2 separate regions of the Homo sapiens genome follow, and region 2 is linked to region 1. The links come from fine-mapping of genetic effects on gene expression. A gene starts in region 1. The other region holds a variant in brackets. All regions are shown on one strand. Distances are from middle to middle. Region 1 holds the start of CNOT2 (CCR4-NOT transcription complex subunit 2). Region 2 overlaps CNOT2 (CCR4-NOT transcription complex subunit 2).

Evidence for each region. PIP is the estimated chance that this variant, and not a neighbour inherited with it, causes the effect. A credible set is the group of variants that fine-mapping cannot tell apart.
Region 2: its variant is the best candidate, but not a certain one, in a credible set for the expression of CNOT2 in whole blood (INTERVAL, PIP 0.63).

Annotation. Positions count from the first base shown.
Region 1 is chr12:70,241,115-70,246,505 of GRCh38, forward strand. CNOT2 (CCR4-NOT transcription complex subunit 2) reads left to right here and starts at 2,319. Exons shown (of 16, transcript NM_014515.7): 1 at 2,319-2,366. It overlaps PRANCR (progenitor renewal associated non-coding RNA), which reads right to left and starts at 2,246. Exons shown (of 5, transcript NR_120460.1): 1 at 2,198-2,246; 2 at 1,710-1,779; 3 at 1,067-1,115. RefSeq lists enhancers at 1,605-2,804, 1,979-2,178, 2,909-3,048 and silencers at 1,738-2,277, 2,349-2,608.
Region 2 is chr12:70,295,669-70,301,059 of GRCh38, forward strand. All of the region lies in intron 2 of CNOT2 (CCR4-NOT transcription complex subunit 2), which reads left to right. Among named protein-coding and RNA genes, the nearest start is that of CNOT2, 55 kb to the left of the region's middle. The variant A/AT (reference allele first, on the strand shown) is at 3,027.

The sequences.
Region 1 (5,391 bases):
CACATTAGAGAAGCCTGTCCTTTTTATCCCTTGCCATGGCAAAATTTTCAATACCATCCATATTTTTCTAAAAATGGGTGGCCTCCTTCTTCTACAAGTTATACACAAACTCATTCTTCCCTTAATAGGGTATTTTTTTTCCCTCAACGTCTGTAATTTTTAAATAAAGTGTACAGAGAATTTAACATAATACATATTTTGGAAATATACAAAACATGTGCCTATTAGTAAGGACTACTTTTCAGGTAAAAGTAAGAAAATCTAGTAAGATAGTTAAAAGAAACCAAACTACCAAATGGGCAAACTTAATCAACATTACCAATAAAGATGAACTTTTTGATGCAACAGGACAATTTAAAAAATATACCATCTATTGGTAAGAACTCTTACTATAAGAATTCTTACTATACAAGCCTTTAACAAATGCTAGCTCATTAAATACCTAGAGTACCCTCTAAGGTAGGTATTAAAAATTTTTTAACAAATTTATAATAGATTTGGCACAAATAATAGGACAATTAAAGGCTTGTTCTTCAACCCGGCTTAAAGTGAATTCATCCTAAACAAATAGGTGTTCAGTGAGAGTCAAAGTAAGTAGTATCAAATATTGAAAGTAATAGTATCAGTGTATTTTCTCCTAACACTCCTAACCCACACATTTATTATGAAAATGTTTGTTGTTCTATCTCTTCCAGTAAAATACTCAAGGTAATAAAACTCTCATATCAGACTTACACCCTCTGGAAGTCATTCCATAGAGGTATATTCAATCTTTTAACACACCATCTTATGGTTGAAGATGTTAACATGAGAAGGAGGAGAAAGCAGGAAGAGGAAGGGACTATTTGCAGAAGACGGGGAGAAAGAAAGGAAAGACACTAGTATGTGTTGTTCCTCCTCGAATTTTCCTGAAGTGAAAAAAAAACAGTGAAGTAGAGTGTTTGATGAAATGAATAACCAAGCAAAACATTTTCTACCTACACCAGTACCACTAGGAGTTGAAATAAATTCACACAATGTCTGCTGATATGTCAAAACACCTTACCTTCAAAAACATGACAGTTACCTTTTATTTTATAGTATGCTTGTGTTTCTTCCTATTTCTTGCTTTTGACCTTCAATGATAAATGTAAACTGGATTACAGTGATTCTTTTGTAAGTAAAAGGTGACTTTTTAAAAGAAACAACCAATGGAAATAGAAATTTTATTTACTTCAAATTAACTGTACTTTACTCAAATAGAAAAGAATAATTTTCACATTATGAAGCTACACAATTCCAAAATACACATGCTGAGGCTCTTTTTAAGTCCGAATTGTCTAGTAATTACAAAAAAGTGAAGAGTTTACAGATATACAAGGAAATAAAGGCGAATTATTGCAAAGAAAACAAGTTTAATTTCACTTTGAATGACAACGATTTTTCTGGAAAGCAGATACTTCACTCCTTTAAGTTTCCACCCAAGCCACAATAATTTCAAACGGTCTTGCGGATGACCCAGCTGGTCACTCTTGTTTATGTGGGGACTGGAGGTAATGAGAGCCAAAAAAAGTGCTATAAACCTAATTTGGCTAGAGCAAGTTCACACGACACGACCGTGCTTTAAAAACTTGCTCTCCATTATGTACTTCCTTCCATCAGGTTGGGGAAAAAAAAATGGTGGGGATGGTGAGTAAACACACCAGTGGTTTCATCAGAGGGGAACTCACTACTCAGGAGGTGACGGTGACGTGGTGCCGGTCCCTGAAGTACGCGCACAAGCTCCGGAGGTTGCGGGAGCTGAGGGAGGAAACAGGGACACGATCAGATTCGCTCCAGGTGGCGGGAGTGAGGAGGGGAGGAGTGACGAGGCGGACGTGCGGGGGCGGGGGTGTCCAACACAAACACAAACACAAACACGAACACGAACACGCTCAGCGTCCCCGGGGAGGGCGGACTGAAGCCACCTCACCATTCATCGCCCCTGGACCCCGCAGTCCCCCTCGGACTCAGGGCCAGAGCCTTCTGCGAAGCAACCTAGCCCCAGGGAAACGGTAGCGGCCGCAGAAGCCCCGCTCTCTGTAACGGCCGCGGAGGAGCAGCAAGCCTCCCTGTGAGTCGGTGGGAGACAAGACGGAGCGGCGGTAAGGGCGGTAGGGAAGTGAAGCGCCTCTCTCCACCTTGTTAGAAGCGCGCTGAAAGCGGCCTGCCTACCCACCCCATCGCTGCCGTTTTGCAGTCGTCGCTCCCACCTTCCGCTGCCGCCTGGAGGGAAGCCGGAGCGACGGGGGTCACGGCGGCGGTCAGAGGGTAAAGGTCTTGCTCCCAGCAGCCTCCGCGGTGGATACGTCGCCATCTTGGATCCGCGGGACAAGAAAATTCATGCGGTGAGTTTTTGGTAAATTTTCGGAAGTCTGGCAGCGGGGCGCGCGGCGGGGGCGGCAGATTCGGGGCCCCCGCAAGGCGGGGGAATGCCCCGGGGCCGGTCCGGTCGCGCCCAGGGTCCGCCGGTAGCGTCCCGGCCCACCGCTTCCCGTTGCTTTTGTCTCGGCTCCAATCGAGAGACGGAGAGCGGAGCGGGCGGGGAGGGGGGTGGCGGCGGTGGAGGGAGGGAGGGGGTGTGTATGGGGGTGGTGGTGGACCGGACGTAAAGCGTCGCTGTACTCGGGCCGCTGCAGCAGCAGCAGCTCCAGATCCTAGGCCCGGTCCCATCCGCGAGTGGTGGGGCTTCCCCAGACTCCACTCCCCTAGGCTCCCGCCAGCGCGGAGGAGCCGCTGCCGCCGCGCTGCTTCCTGGGGGAGAAGAGAAGGCGGCAGCGGCCGTGGCCGTGGCCGACGAGCTCGAGCCCGCTTTAGACGGCTCTGCCGCCTTCCCGGCAGCTGGTGCTGTCTGTGGCTTCTTACCTTCTCTCAATACACGTATATCATCTGCCAGTTATGTGTATTTCTGTTAGTGTGTTTGCAAGTGTCAGATGGGAGACACTGGACTGGCTAACGGGTGTCAGGATCCTGCAGGCCCTGGGATACCGAAGGCTGTGCATGGTGGAGGGAGAAGGAATGCAACTGCGATGCCGCCTCTGCCACCGCACCAGGAAGGTGAAGCTTCCGTAGTGTCGTAGACTGAGTCCGGATGATCCTGGGGCGGCGGAGGAACCACAGACGCTTCTGTCTGTGAAGTTGCAAGTCCTGGGTTTCTACTTCCGCAGGGGCCTCTCCACCTTTTGCTGTCGTAGGTCTCGCTTAAAAGTTTAACAGAAGAAAAGAGTAGGGTTAAAAGAGGCCTTTGTAGTTCTTCATTGAAGCACTGTTGTCTGTCCGGGTGAAAGCTGATAACTCTTGGTAACTGTGGTCCTTAGCAAAAGAGAATTGGAGTTTTCTTTTATACAAAGTATTTCCAAGGTTTTAGACCTTATATTTATTCCAGGCCTGTAGGTACGGTATTACTACCACAAAAGTCTTACATTAAGGGTACCACCCTCTCAGAGGGAACCTAAACATCAACTTCCTTCGAATCCTTGGAGACATCTTCACTTTTCAACATCCGGAAGACTGAGTGCAACATATTTTGTTTCATTTTCATAAAAGTCTTGGTCAGAGAATCCCACTCCTTTTAAAATCGTTTGGGCAATTCCTCATAATTAAGTACACTGCTTTGAACCCTTAGTTCTTGGCGAAATGGTAAAAAGTACTCAGTTAAAATCAGTTCACGAGGGAGGCCAACTTGAATTTAAGGTTCAAAGTTGAACATATTTAGTGTCATGCTTAATATTAGGAATTTTTAGAGCTCGGAATCATAAGTGTGACTGTTGATTTCCCTTTTGAAGCAATATAAATGGAAAGAATAAAGTATGGGGTGAGGGATGAGATAGAAATTTTAAAGTATCCATTTACATGCAAGGTTGATGTTGAGTTTGGGAATGCTTGGCATAATTGACAACAGTTCTTTCCAAACGTCAATGAATAAATCTCACAATTTTGTAAGGTAACTATTGCAGATTGAAAGGGTTAAGAATCATAGTTGGCTGAAATGGTTAAGTGTCTATATTCACATCCCAGTTCATTGAAATGTTTTATAATGGACCAAGATAATTAGTAAGCTCTGTATGTTGAATTTGTTTAGTTTGTAGTTCTATTATAATGTTAAATCTAAAGAAAAAAATACAAAATACACTTAAAGACAAAACATGTTCCACTCTACTCACTTATTTCTTGACTTTGTAAGATCCTTACTGTAAAAAAGGTACTTTTCTCTCATATTTTCTGAGAGCTTGAATTGTAATAATTTTTGTGAATACTTTGTATTTTAGAGAGGAAGTGAGAAACTGCTGAAGTTTTTTTTGCATCTTGATTAGTGCTTTATCAATACAAATAAGTTAATGTAAACATTTGTTGGCAGGAATCTTTTTCTAAGTATACAATGTAGAGATATCTGTAACCTAATCTGATCTCAGGGAATGAGAATTGCCTGTTTAACCAAGCAACAAATACAGCCTATACAATTTTTCAATTTCTATAATACTTTAATTTACATGGTGGAAAAATGAGGGCAAAATGCTTGTGTATGAGTGATTTATATCCCCAAGTACCTGCTCTTGAAGATAAAACTCAGATTGTGGCTTATCTTCTGATGCTGGGCAAAAAACAAAAACAAAAAAATTCAGAATGATACAACTTCCCATATACCTCCCTACAAGAACTAATTACCTTTGTTTTTGCTTTATAACTTTGGATGTTGCACTTTTTGATTTTTCAGAGATGCTTTACAGTTATTGTAATCTGAAAATTATTTGTTCAAAAGTAAATAAAATTTTCAGGTGTATGAATAGATTTTATTAGAAGTGATTCTAACCCAGTTCTCATTTGTATTCCTTTAGTAGATACTGGTGTTAAAAGTACCTGTATTTTGAAAGACCATTACAGAATTTTTTACAACCTGTATAAGTTATAGTTTTATCTTTTCTAGTGACAGACTTACTTCATAAGATTTTCTGATAATATGAATAAAATGTATGCTTCACATGTATATATGAAATAATGAGTAAGCATTAATAGACCAATGAAAAGAACTTAGCTTACAATTTATTTTCTTGCTCTTTAAAAGCAGTGGTAAATAATAGCTTTTTTTTGTTGTTAAAATTTGTAACTGTAGAAAGTTCATTCTGTTGGGATCACATATTTGAAGGCAAACTAACAATGCCATGTGCTTGCTTGAATAGGCATTTGAGGACAGGTTATTTTCCTGAGATTTCAGGAAAATATACCACCAAACATTTATGATGTTATTTGTTACCTGGATCTGTAGTGGATTTTGTAACACAAAGAGGCAGAATATCCAGGGTACCAGGTAGGGCAGTTTAGGGGCAGAGTTAATATGAGGTGTACTGTAATGTTTGAGTGGAATTACATACAGTG
Region 2 (5,391 bases), 55 kb after region 1:
ATTATGTGAGTTCTCAACTCCAACTTCTTACTGCTCATAAGAGGTACTAATTATATTTAGTTCTTTAGTATATGTGTACTTTTTTCCTATGGATTAGCACTTTTTGAATAATTAGAATTTTGGTTTTAGGATGATGCACTTAGCTTTTAAAGCTTATATATTAATTGTTCAAATGTGAATCTATATAAAGCATATTGGTGCAGCACATTTTAAGATTCTAGAAAACCACAAAATCTGTTTATTCATGTTGAAACATACAGAACATATTCTCCCTAGATCAGAGTCAAACTTGTGGAGGTATTTGTAGCATTTTGGTAACACTCCCTAGAGAATTTGTAGACTTTGGGGGTGCATATTAAGGGATAACATACATGGCTTTTCAGAATATTTTCTGAATAAAGCAGCTTCAGACACCAGATTTTAGTTTTTGGATTAGGAAAGAGTGATGTGTTTTTCCACCCTCCCCTCCCCCACCAACACACACACACATACCCTCCCCATCTTTCAGATATAGGCCATCTTGTTTTATTGGATGAGCCCCCCAAAAATACACAGAAATATGCTAAATATTTCTGTAAACCTTGGAAAGGACTCTGCCAGGATATTTATCTACTCTCCAAAATAGTGATTGTGGAAGTGTTTGTATAGGTCCCTAGCTTTCTACTAAAGCCTATTTCCAACCAGTCATAGATTTTTGTGTGTGTGTGTATCTACATGTTAACTATCTTTGGTATTCATTGAGGCCTTTTTTGCTTATTTATGGTTATTCTGCATTGGCTAAAACAATGAGTTGCTCTTATTTGTTTCCATGCTATCGATTTGATGATTTGTAATTCTAGACTTTAAAATTTATCTATATCTTCACTTTTCTTAGATCCATCCTAAGCAGATTCATGAACTTTTCATTATACCTATATCATATTAAAAATATGAAACCATAGTATTCTAGAACTCGGAGGACTTGAATTTGTTTCTCACATGAAGAGTTTTTTTTTTTTTGGTAAAGATTTCCAGGTATTAATATCTTTGTTCTTTAAGAAGCTAGAATTTTTTTGTGCAGTGTAGGTGCCTTTCTGTCCTTTATTTAAGCCCCCCCCCCTTTTTAAATTGTTTTTCAAGAATTAAATAAAATTAGAATTATTTATAGTAGTTGCGAAGCAGGATAAGCAGTTTAAAATCCTATCACAAAAAATACTACTGAAACAAAAATATCTTTGTTAACAAATATTTCCAGGTTGTAACAATATAATATTTGATATACGAATATTCTACTTCCATAGAATTTGGGCAGTCTGTGAGATTTTTACCTATCATGTTTTCCCTCTAAAGGGCAATTATAAAAACGCTAGATTATCTTCAGGTATTAGGACTCCTCATCATTGGTTTCAGATGTTAATTGGCTACACCTTGATAAAAGGCAGATAAGTGTTAATGGCAGTTGGCTGTGATTTTATATTAAGTTTCTGCCTATTTTATAGCCAAGAACTTGTGCATATTTGTATATTGTTTGTTGATATTGAATATGGAATTCAGAGAGAAAATAAGAACTCAAATTCTAAATTACTCAGATCTCCATTAGGAAAACAGTGCCTGAGAAACACTTTTTCCCCCTTCTCAGGTACTGTATATCTTGCAGTTAGCAGTCTTCATCTTGTATAATGCAAGCAGACTACAAACTCTGTAGCTGGGAGTGAAAATTTGTTACTCAGTATGAAGCAGTGAATGAGACAATTGATTTTATCGTGTGACACCTGTACCAACATGTTAGCAGTAAAACTCCTCCCTACATTAGAGAATCTACAATAAAAAGTTGCTACTAGGGAATTGTTTTTGTTTTAACACAAGTTCTAGATGTGCCCTACATATGTAATGCTATAATGTCTACATTAGAGCTATTATAATGAAATTAAGAGTTTGGTTATAATTATCCTAATTCCTTGAAAGGTTAAATTGTGTTCACTATACTTAAGTACCTAAAAATGTTAGTTCTTTGGGAACATGGAAACCAGGTATATATAGCTTTTAGTAGTTATTTCTACTTATCTGAAGCCCTCCTTGGATAATAATTTTTTTTTGTTTTCATTTTTGAGACGTGGTCTCACTCTGTCACCCAGGCTGGACTGCAGTGGCGTCATCTTGGCTCACTGCAACCTCCGCCTCCCAAGTTCAAGTGATTCTCCTGCCTCGGCCTCCAAGTAGCTGGGACTACAGGTGCGTACCACCACGCCCAACTAATTTTTGTATTTTTAGTAGAGATGGGGTTTCGCCATGTTGGCCAGGCTGCTCTTGAATTCCTGACCTCAGGTGATCCACCCACCTCAACCTCTGGGAGTTGAGTGGGATTACAGGCGTGAACCACTGCACCTGGTGGATAATAATTTTTAATTGGTATAATAGTATTTCTTTTAAGCATAACTTCATTTTCAAATTAATGCAACTTTCTGTAAAATACATGTGATTAGTCTTGTAGAGACTGGCTTTTGTCTCACATGTCTATAATCAGTCATAATCAGTCCATTCTTGTTCTTGTGCTAAAGTGATCTTTTTGACACACATAAATATTCGATTGTGGTATACCCTACTTACCATTGTTCACAATATAAGGACCTTCCTCCTCCAATCGGCTTTTTATTTGCTCCTTACTGCTTTTCCCTTTACAAATTCAAGAACAAAACACACATTAAATTGTTAGTTGTATATTTGAGAGTCAGTGTACTATCATGGTTAAAAAGGGGGACTCCAGCAAATTGGTCTGGGTTCAAAACCCATCTCCGCATTTATCAGATATATAACCTTAGGAAGTTAACCTAACTTCTCTGGTCCTTAGCTACAAAATAGGGATAGTTAATTGTTCTTACTTTCTAGCGTTATCTTGATAATTACATAAATAAATTTTAAAGCATTTAGAATATTCCCTGGCACAATAATTTATTATTATTTTATAGTTATGATAAAGTGTTTTCAGAGACTGTATAAAACAAGAGTCCTAATTTAGTGTGAAAGTTTCAAAGAATGGGAGAAAGGGC[A/AT]TTTTAAGTAGCCGTATCAGCATATGCAAAGACCGGGACATGGAAACTAACTTCTGTTCTGAGTAACTGAAGGTATGGCAAGGGTTTGGTGGTGTCAGGGGACTTAGGAGAGAAGTTAGAGGTTACAAAACATCTTATAAGCCTTATTGATTTGGGAGTGCTGTTGAGGAATTTTTATCAGAAAGTCCATGAAGATAAATAATTTTTACTTTAAAAAATCACTTTGATGTGGGAGAGTAGAATTGAGGGGAAGAAGAATAGATTAATAAAGACCTGTTTGGAGGCTATTGGAGTGGCTTGTTCTAGTGTATTATTAGTCCGTTCTCATGCTAACAAAGACGTACCCGAGACTGGGTAGTTTATAAGGGAAAGAGGTTTAATTGACTCACATGGCTGGGGAGGTCTCACAATCGTGGCAGAAGGCAAATGAGGAGCAGTCACGTCTCACATGGCGGCAGGCAAGAGTGAATGTGTGCAGGGGAACCCCCCTGTATAAACCACCAGATCTCATGAGACTTATTTTTTTTTTAATTTTATTATTATTATACTTTAAGTTTTAAGGTACATGTGCACAACGTGCAGGTTTGTTACATATGTATACATGGGCCATGTTGGTGTGCTGCACCCATTAACTTGTCATTTAGCATTAGGTATAGCTGCTAATGCTGTCCCTCCCCCCTCCCCCCACCCCCCAACAGTCCCCGGTGTGTGATGTTCCCCTTCCTGTGTCCATGTGTTCTCATTGTTCAATTCCCACCTATGAGTGAGAACATGCGGTGTTTGGTTTTTTGTCCTTGCGATAGTTTGCTGAGAATAATGGTTTCCAGCTTCATCCACGTCCCTACAAAGGACATGAACTCATCCTTTTTTATGACTGCATAGTATTCCATGGTGTATATGTGCCACATTTTCTTAATCCAGTCTATCATTGTTGGACCTTTCGGTTGGTTCCAAGTCTTTGCTATTGTGAATAGTGCTGCAGTAAACATAAGTGTGCATGTGTCTTTATAGTAGCATGATTTATAATCCTTTGGGTATATACCCAGTAATGGGATGGCTGGGTCAAATGGTATTTCTAGTTCTAGATCCCTGAGGAATCGCCACACTGACTTCCACAATGGTTGAACTAGTTTACAGTCCCACCAGCAGTGTAAAAGTGTTCCTATTTCTCCACATCCTCTCTAGCACCTGTTGTTTCCTGACTTTTTAATGATTGCCATTCTAACTGTTGTGAGATGGTATCTCATTGTGGTTTTGATTTGCATTTCTCTAATGGCCAGTGATGATGAGCATTTTTTCATGTGTTTTTTTGGCTGCATAAATGTCTTCTTTTGAGAAGTGTCTGTTCATGTCCTTTGCCCACTTTTTGATGGGGTTGTTTTTTCTTGTAAATTTGTTGGAGTTCATTGTAGATTCTGGATATTAGCCCTTTGTCAGATGAGTAGATTGCAGAAATTTTCTCCCATTCTGTAGAAGCCTGTTCACTCTGATGGTCGTTTCTTTTGCTGTGCAGAAGCTCTTTAGTTTAATTAGATCCCATTTGTCAATTTTGGCTTTTGTTGCCATTGCTTTTGGTGTTTTAGACATGAAGTCCTTGCCCATGCCTATGTCCTGAATGGTATTGCCTAGGTTTTCTTCTAGAGTTTTTATGGTTTTAGGTCTAACATTTAAGTCTTTAATCTATCTTGAATTAATTTTTGTATAAGGTGTAAGGAAGTGATCCAGTTTCAGCTTTCTACATATGGCTAGCCAGTTTTCCCAGCACCATTTATTAAATAGGCAATCCTTTCCCCATTGCTTGTTTTTGTCAGGTTTGTCAAAGATCAGATGGTTGTAGATATGTGGCGTTATTTCTGAGGGCTCTGTTCTGTTCCATTGGTCTGTATCTCTGTTTTGATACCAGTACCATGCTGTTTTGGTTACTGTAGCCTTGTAGTATAGTTTGAAGTCAGGTAGCGTGATGCCTCCAGCTTTGTTCTTTTGGCTTAGGATTGACTTGGCAATGAGGGCCCTTTTTTGGTGCCATATGAACTTTAAAGTAGTTTTTTCCAATTCTGTGAAGAAAGTCGTTGGTAGCTTGATGGGGATGGCATTGAATCTATAAATTACCTTGGGCAGTATGGCCATTTTCACGATATTGATTCTTCCTACGTATGAGCATGGAATGTTCTTCCATTTGTTTGTATCCTCTTTTATTTCATTGAGCAGTGGTTTGTAGTTCTCCTTGAAGAGGTCCTTCACATCCCTTGTAAGTTGGATTCCTAGGTATTTTATTCTCTTTGAAGCAATTGTGAATGGGAGTTCTTTCATGATTTGGCTCTCTGTTTGTCTGTTATTGGTGTATAAGAATGCTTGTGATTTTTGC